3 separate regions of the Homo sapiens genome follow, and regions 1 and 2 are each linked to region 3. The links come from fine-mapping of genetic effects on plasma protein levels. Region 3 holds a variant in brackets. A gene starts in each other region. All regions are shown on their reverse strands. Region 1 holds the start of ADAMTS15 (ADAM metallopeptidase with thrombospondin type 1 motif 15). Region 2 holds the start of BCL2L11 (BCL2 like 11). Region 3 overlaps KNG1 (kininogen 1).

What was found. PIP is the chance, under the fine-mapping model, that this variant and not a neighbour inherited with it causes the effect. The UK Biobank Pharma Proteomics Project read protein levels with antibody pairs (Olink). The fine-mapping took linkage between variants from a reference panel, not from the people measured, so its PIPs are less certain.
Region 1: it holds the start of ADAMTS15, and the variant in region 3 is fine-mapped to the plasma level of the ADAMTS15 protein (UK Biobank, PIP above 0.99).
Region 2: it holds the start of BCL2L11, and the variant in region 3 is fine-mapped to the plasma level of the BCL2L11 protein (UK Biobank, PIP above 0.99).

What each region holds. Positions count from the first base shown.
Region 1 is chr11:130,447,461-130,450,215 of GRCh38, reverse strand. It overlaps ADAMTS15 (ADAM metallopeptidase with thrombospondin type 1 motif 15), which reads right to left and starts at 1,571. Exons shown (of 8, transcript NM_139055.4): 1 at 286-1,571. The coding sequence starts at 1,242.
Region 2 is chr2:111,119,448-111,122,178 of GRCh38, reverse strand. BCL2L11 (BCL2 like 11) reads right to left here and starts at 1,265. Exons shown (of 4, transcript NM_138621.5): 1 at 991-1,265. RefSeq lists silencers at 533-827, 1,161-1,700 and enhancers at 711-830, 1,981-2,060.
Region 3 is chr3:186,734,834-186,737,588 of GRCh38, reverse strand. The region is part of intron 7 of KNG1 (kininogen 1); the gene reads right to left. Among named protein-coding and RNA genes, the nearest start is that of KNG1, 19 kb to the right of the region's middle. The variant T/G (reference allele first, on the strand shown) is at 1,198.

The DNA of each region.
Region 1 (2,755 bases), not on the chromosome of region 3:
TCCGGCCCCTCGGCGCCTGATCCAGGAGGCGCTGATTGGCCGCGCCAGGCCAACACCTTCGGAAAGCGCAGGCTCTCCTCCAATGGCCCAGATGCACGTGAGCCGCCGCTCCGCGGAGCGTGGGAGAGGGCTCTCCCTGGAAACTCCACAGAGTTGGAGTCGGAAGAGATCAACGAGGTTTAAACTCGGAGGCATTGCACGATACAAAGGGGATTTGGAGCGCTAGGGGAGGTGACCCTAAAGAACGGGACTATCTGGGTGCAAAGTGACGGCAGATCAACTCACCTGCCTGGTGAAGAGGATGGCAGTGTCCCAGTACTCGGGGTGCTTGTCACTCACTTTGTTCAGCTTCTTCTGCCAGGCACAGAAGTTGCGCAGCGTCAGGGCCGCATTGCCGGTGACCTTGGGCCCGGAGTCACGATCTCTAAGAAGCAGCACCTTGACCACAACGATGTTGATGGGGTTGAGGATGCTGGGATGGCGGTAGAGTCGCGCCGCCGTTGCCAGCAGCGTCAGCAGATAATGTTCCAGGTCCGCGCCGTGGAACTTGACCATTGACTCGTCCGCGACCACCAGCGTCTCCACGTACCGCGGGATAGACACGAAACGCTTGGCGCGCCCAGACCTGCGCCGGCTACGACTCTCCCCGAAGCCCGCCCGCCGCGGCTTGTAAGGGTCCAGGGCCCGTAGGATGGCGGGGTTCCAGCCCGAGGCCACCCCGCAGCGAGAGGTGGGGTCTCCGGAAGGCCCGCCCGGAACACCCCGGCGCTGGAGAAGGTGTGCGCCCTGGCTGTTGCGCTGCGCCGCCGGCGCGCTAGCATTGGGCAGCGGGCTAATGACATACTCGGCGCCTCGGTAGCCAAAGGCTCCGCGGAGCCCCCCGCACAGGCTCACAGCAGCGAACGAGTCCGGCTCGGCGTTCACGTCCCCAGAATAGAAGCAGCGTCGCAGGTCTGAAGAGCCCCCGGTGAGCCCCTGGAGGGGGACGCCCAGATGCTCAGTGGAGAAGGCGGGAGCCAAGAACTGAGCATCCGGCGTCAGGTGTAGGTAAAAGTCCTCCTGAAATGCTGTGATCTGAAAAATGAGTCCCTGATCCCCGGAGTCCTCGGGACCCCGCCAGTAGTAGCGGCGGCCGTTAATGTCCGGGTCCAGTCGGATGGGAACGACTACCTCCCGCTCTGGCTCAGAGCCTCCAGCGGTTCGCCCGGCGAAAGCCAGGGTTAGGATGCCCAGCAGAAGCATGGCGCCGGGCAGCGCACCGCCGCGCTGTGGGAAGGGGCTGGGCCGGGCTCTCCGGCCGCTGCCGCGGTCTCCGTGCAGCCCGCACTCTGGAACCGCCAACGCTACGGGACAGCCGGCAGTTCCCAGAAAGGAGAGCCAAGGGAGGGAGACTCCTCCCAGGGCGGCGAGCGTGCACCCGGCAGCCCGCGCTTCCTACCTGTGCCTTTCCAAGCAAAGCGCGCCCTGGGAGCTTAAGTACAATCGCTGTCAAGTGCAAGGACGAAGATTTGCAGCCGAGAACTAGCGGAAGGTGCCGGGCGGCTTCTCGCAACCGCAGCCACTCGCAGCGCAGCAAGCCAGGCGCTGGGCGAGCCTATTAAAGGCCCCCTCCTCTTTGGACGGCCCAGTCAGCGCCCCTCCCCTCACTCCCCTCCCAGCCTCCCAGAGCTCGCTGCCGGAGCCTCCAGGGGCCACCGGAGAACTCGGTCCCGCCTCCAGAGCGGAGAGCCACTTGGCGGGGAGGGAGTGGCATTGAGCTGAGGCAGGAGGCGTGGGCTGGCCCGAGAAACCGGCGCTGAAGTCTCAGTTTGCGTTTTGCTCTTGGTTATGCCCCACTGTCCCGACGCCTCACTCGCTTCTGCCCCCGCGGACAGCGTTCACTCTCTGGGTCTTAGTCTTTTATCTCAGGGCAGATCAGGTCAGCAGCTAGGAATGAAGACCCTTCACTGACCCGTCCCCAGGCCCACCTCATCCCTGCTGTTGCAACATCCCTGCTGTTTCTTAATCACAGAGTCCCCTAAAAGACCCAGAATCAAGAACCACCCCCCCCCCCGCGTAAATGTCCTATTGCCAGAAGAGCAATAGGACAGGGGCATGGGAGCCCTCTGGAACCCAAGACCGCCTAGCCCCAAGGTCTGCCCTGGGCCCATGGTGTGCTGGATGGGCTGGGGCAAACTCTTCAGTTCTCAGGAATCTTGCCAGCCAGCTGTTAATCACGGACATTATTAAAAATTAAACTAAACACACTTACAATTAAACAAAGTGTATATATATATATGCACACACACACACATACATATATATACACATACATATATATATATACATACACACACACACACACACACACACATATATATATATATTTTTTTTTTTTTGAGACGGAGTTTTGCTCTTGTTGCCCAGGCTGGAGTGCAATGACGCGATCTCAGCTCACCGCAAACTCCGCCTTCCGGGTTCAAGCCATTCTCCTGTCTCAGCCTCCCAAGTAGCTGGAATTACAGGCATGCACCACCACGCCCAGCTAATTTTGTATTTTTAGTAAAGACAGGGTTTCTCCATGTTGGTCAGGCTGGTCTCGAACTACCGACCTCGGGTGATCCTCCTACCTTGGTTTCCTACCTCCTACCTTGGTCTCCTGAGTAACTGCGACCACAGACACACGACACCACGCTAGGCCAATTTGTGTGTGTGTGTGTGTGTGTGTGTGTGTGTGTGTGTGTGTGTGTGTATTTTTGGTAGAGACTGGGTTTCG
Region 2 (2,731 bases), not on the chromosome of region 3:
GTGGCAACTATTCTCCTCCAACAACTTCCTCTCTCTCCTGGTGCGCCGCAGACACGAGTCAAAGCCGAAGAGCCACCCCTGGCCGCGGACGCGCACGTCCGCGACCATCGAGTAAATTCACACCCTCCGCCCTGGCGTCCGTCGGGCCCTCCACCAGCAGCGCCAACCCTGGGGCAACAGGTCCCAGAGGGCACGGCGCCGCCAGCCTGCACCGCGAACCGGGTCGGGTGTGCTCGGGCATGCGTGAGCCGCTAAGATAGCCCGGCCCAGGGACCGAGCAGGTTCTGCCGGCCGCGACTAGTCCCCTGCGCGGTCCAGGTGGTCAGGGGAGGACCTAGATTTCTCGCTGCCAGGGAATCGTGCGGATGGCACAGGCCGCAGGACTCCTGCAGAGCAAGCAGGGGCCCCAGGTACGCTTGAGAAAGCGAACGCAGCAGTGGCCCCGAAACCTTGGCCTGAATGAGTAAAAGGAAAAGCCGTGTCTCGTCAGTTAAATCACCACCGCAGTTCCGCAAATCCTCCGCAACAGGCCCACGCGCCCCAAAAAACCAAGACACGAAACACCCTCACACTGCGCGGCCGCTACTCTGAGGGCGCCGGAGCCGGCGGCGAGACTTTCCAGCTGGGCGCACAGCCCGATACTACGAGCAGGTCCTCAGCTCCCGGGCCGGCGCCGAAAGGCACGCGCTGCCTCTCCTCCTGCCCGGACCTACGACCCTTCACCAGGCCCGCGCGCAGCATCCCGTCCCAAGCCGCACTTCGGCCAAGAGCCTGCAGGTTCCGCGTGAACGACTTTTCTTTAAAGAGAACCTGCCCGAGAGGGAACCCGATCCACACGGATCCCCACCTCCCGCCGGCGACAAGCGGCGCCGATGCAAGCGTCTCCGCTCGCACGTGCACGGGAAGCGGGCAGTAGGTGGTGCCGTTCGGGCTCCAGCGCTAGTCTTCCTTCGGTGCCAGGCCCGCGCCCCGGGATTTGGAGGTATTTACCTTGCGTTTCTCAGTCCGAGAGTCAGAGTCAGACATTTGGGGGAACAAGGGCCAAGAAAGGGCGCCGAGGCGGTGGCGGCGGGAACGCAGCGAACCGAATACCGCGATGATGCGATCGCAGTGTGGCAGGGTTCGCAGGGTGGCTGCAAGAATCAAGTGGTGGTAGTGGCGGCGGCGGCGGCGGCGGCGGCGGCGGCGGCGGCGGCGGCAGCGGCAGCGGCGCTGGACGCAGAGCTCCAACAAACTGCAGACCAGGCGGCTGCGCGGAGCGAAGTGAAACCTGCGCGGCCCTGCAGCCCAGCTCTGGCTGGCGGCCCCGCTCCTACGCCCAATCACTGCGGACCCCGCCCCCGCTAGGTCCCGCCCCGGCGCGCGGGCTGGCAAGCTCCGCCCCCCTCGGCGCCGCGGCCGCCGGCGCGTGCAGGCTCGGACAGGTAAAGGCGGGGGTTGCCCCGCTGGGTTGCCTCCCGCGCGCGCCGCCGTCCCTGGCGTGTTTACCGGAGTAACTCTGCCTGCTGGCGGCCATGTGCGCGCCCATCCCCCACCCCGAAGTGTACCCTAGCCTCCCGCTCACCTACCCCAACCCGGCGGCGGCCGCGGCGTGCGCGGCACAGAGGGGGCGCTCCGGTCACAGCCTCCGCTGGCCCGGCCGGCGGTGTGAAGCCTCGGGAGGCGCCCTGCGCTCTCACTGTGCCCTGAGTTTCTAAGCCGCTCTGGGGCAGGCGCGGGGACTGGGTTGGTCCTCGCGAAGGCGCGGGGCGAGGTCTTTGAGCTCTCCTCCCTCTGAGGGTCCCTGGCGCCGGGCGGGACGCGGATCAGCAGGCTGCGCATCTTCCTCGCCCGGGCCTCTCGCGGGACTCAGGCACCCTCCTCCTGCCACCCCGCAGGGGCTCTCCAGCTTTTCTTCCGCGCCCAGTCGCCCTAAGAGACAGAGGCCGTGGGGGCAGGACGCGCCCAGAAAACGGCCAGGCGCGGTCCCAGTGGGCGTCTTCGCCGCCTCCCGGGTGAGGGCGGGAGGCATGTGCAAAGCAGGTAAAATAGGGAAATGAAAAAAGCACTCAGAAAAAAAAATCCTTTTAGGAAAAAAAAAAACGAGGTGAATGGCGGCCTCCAAGTGAGAGAGAACGTTGCGCACTGCATTTGGCTAGGACCCCCAAGATTTGCTGGGCTCGCAGATAACCTCGTAGGAGCTCCCTCGACTGGCTGAGGCCAGTGAAGGCAGAACAGCTGAGTTCGGGCCGCGGTGCGGGAGCGCAAAATACCCCGTCCCTCCTCCCCTCCCGCCTCCCCACCCATCCCTTTCCTCCCTGGAGTCCGCAGCACCTCACTCTACCTCCCAGGAGACCAAACTCCATGCCGCCTCTCCAGTCCTCTGAGTCTGCACCCGGGTCTGCTCTCCCAACGCGTGGCTGGCGCCCCAACCCCGGCCCTCCTGTCTGCTCCTCCCGCGCCTCAGTTCCCCAGCCCCAGCTTCTAGACAACTGCAGCGGGGGTGTGGGAGGTGGATCGGGAAATGGAACATCCCGCAGGTGAGGTCAGGCTAGATGGATTAAGGAAACTCTGTAAAGGGACCACCCTACACACCACCGCAGCCGGCAGGGAGAAGGAAGGGGCCTTGCCGTAGAGGAGCAAGTGAGGAGGCGTTGTCCCGCCGTCCGGCCGCCTGGAGCAGTTTTTAAATTCATAAGCGCTTCTGTAACGTCAGTGGGACACAGCGCAGCCCCATGCCAAAGTCTCAGCG
Region 3 (2,755 bases):
TGAGACTCTGTTTCGGGAAACAAAACAAAACAAAAACAAACAAACAAAAAACAACTAAACAAATAAATAAATATTCACCAAAACCCAGGATGAGGAAGGCCTTTCTTAGGTGAAAAGCAGAGGAAAGAAATCTGAAGGAAGGGGAAAATACTAAAACTTGACTAGAGAAAAATGAAAACTGCTTCTGAAAAATCACAATAAGCAAAGTAGAAAGGCAAGCTGGGAAAACTATGATATAGAATCAATGTCTGTATGAATATAAAGCCCAACACTAAAAATGGACAAAAGCCATGAGCAGGTATTTCAGAGAAGTTAAAACGGTCATTAAGCCTAAAAAAAAGTTTAACTTCATTAATAAACAAAAACATGCACATTAAAAAAGCAATGAGACATCATTGTTAGCCTTCCATGCAGGCAAAGATGAAAACAAAAATTGATGATACGTGGCATTGGCCAGGCATAGGAATCAAGCAGCCTCAGTCACTGCTGGTAGGAAGAGAATTCAAATTAAGATCCTCAACTGGTGTCTTTTTTCTTTTATTTTTTGAGACGGAGTCTCACTCTGTCACCCAGGCTGGAGTGCAGTGACACACACTGCAACCTCCGCCTCCTAAATTCAAGTGATTCTCCTGCCTCAGCGCCCCCAAGTAGCTGAGATTACGGGCAAGTGTCACCACACCTGGCTAATTTTTGTGTTTTTTGTAGAGATGAGGTTTCACCATGTTGGCTGGGCTGGTCCCAAACTCCTGACCTCAGGTGATCCGCCCGCCTCGGCCCCCCAAAGTGCTGGGATTACAGGCATGAGCTACCACGCCTGGCCTCAACTGGTGTCTTATACCCAGGTGATGTGAATGTAAATTGGCATCATTGCAAATATTTGGTGATTCTGGCAATTTGCATCAAGTCTTATATATCTACATATTATTTGACATTCCTAGGACTTTGTCAAAGGAAAAATTTCTGCATGTGCACACACAGATCTTGGAAGTTTATTCATCTCAGCAGAGGCAGACAGGAGCATCAACAGCCTTGGGGACAGCAGCAGTGGTGGTAGGGCAAAATAAAACTTATATGAAACTGTAATCACTAATGTGTGAAAATGGAAGATTCAGGAAGTGTTTCATATCTGAAATATGAACCCAACGTGGAATCAACATGCATCCAAACAGGACTAAATGTGCAAACCCAAGGCAAGAT[T/G]AAAACTATAAATATTTAGCAATTTGGCAAATTGGTCATTTTGGAGACTAGCTTTTAGCAAATTCATCATATGTTTAATTGATTTCCAGTAAATTGGCTGCTTCCATCAAGGCTGCCTTGGGTGACTATGTCCAAGCAACCAAATTGCTCTCTTTAAATGCAAAAATTAGTAAAGATTTATCTCTCTAAAGTAAGTTTGAAATTCTTGCAATATTCAGATTGACTTGGCAGCTATCTGATGGGTTACCTCTTTGTGTCCCCCTGACATCCTTAATGTAGACACATATGCATACTAGAATGTTGATTCATTAATCCACAGAGAAAACTGTAACTACTAAGAAGACTAGATATTCATGCTTGAGAATGAGTGGTTCTGTTTTTGATGGCAAACCTCTGACATACAATACATGGTGGCCTATTCCTACAACATTCAGAATAAAGAATAAGGGAGCTGGGTGCATTGGTGTGCGCCTGTAATCCCAGCTACTTGGGAGGTTGAGATGGGCACATTGCTTGCTCCCAGGAGTTCGAGTCCAGCCTGGGCATCATAGTGAGACCCCCATCTCTCTCTCTTTTTGTTTGCTCTGTTGCCCAAAGGGTCTTGTTCTATCACCTAGGCTAGAGTGCAGTGGCACGATCACAGCTCACTGCAGTCTCGACCTCCCAGTCTCAAGCAATCCTCCTACTTCAGCTTCCCAAAGTAGTTGGGACTACAAGCACATACCACCATACCCAGCTAATTTTTTAATTCTTTTTTTTTTTTATTATTTTTTGAGATGGAGTTTCACTCTTGTCACCCAGGCTGGAGTGCAATGGCATGATCTTTGCTCACTGCAACCTCCGCCTCCCGAGTTTAAGTGATTCTCCTGCCTCAGCCTCCCGAGTAGCTGGGATTATAGGCACCCACCACCACACCCAGCTGATTTTTGTATTTTTAGTAGAGATGGTTTTTCACCATGTTGGTCAGGCTGGTCTCGAACTCCTGACCTCAGGTGATCCACCTGCCTCGGCCTCCCAAAGTGCTGGGATTACAGGCATGAGCCACCACGCCTGGCCTTTAATTCTTTTTTTGTAGAGACAGGGTCTTGCTATGTTGCTCCAGCTGGTCTCGCTCCTGGGCTCAAGTGATCCTCCTGTCTCTGCCTCCCAAAGTACTGGGATCACAGGCATGAGCTACCATGTCTGGCCCGCGTCTCTCTTAAAAAACAACAACGAAAAAAGAATAAAATAATTTCACAAGAAAGCAGAAATATAAAGTGAGAAGTTAAAGCTGAAAAAAGCATGAATAGCATAGATTGGCGTCCCTTTCAAGTAAACCTAACGTGGTCATATGGCAATGAAATCAGAGAGAGAGGGTGGTTGTGTCTGGGATAGAAACAAGTGCTCAAGTAGCAGAGAGATCAAAGTATCAGTTTTGATTTACTTTAATCTAGTTTGTTTACTTTTTTTCAGTTACAAAAGTAATACAGAAAATTAGAAAGATTAAAGTAGTGTTATTCCATCACCTAAAAATCACCACTATGACTATGAGGCATTCGTTTTTTTGTTTGTTTCCAGG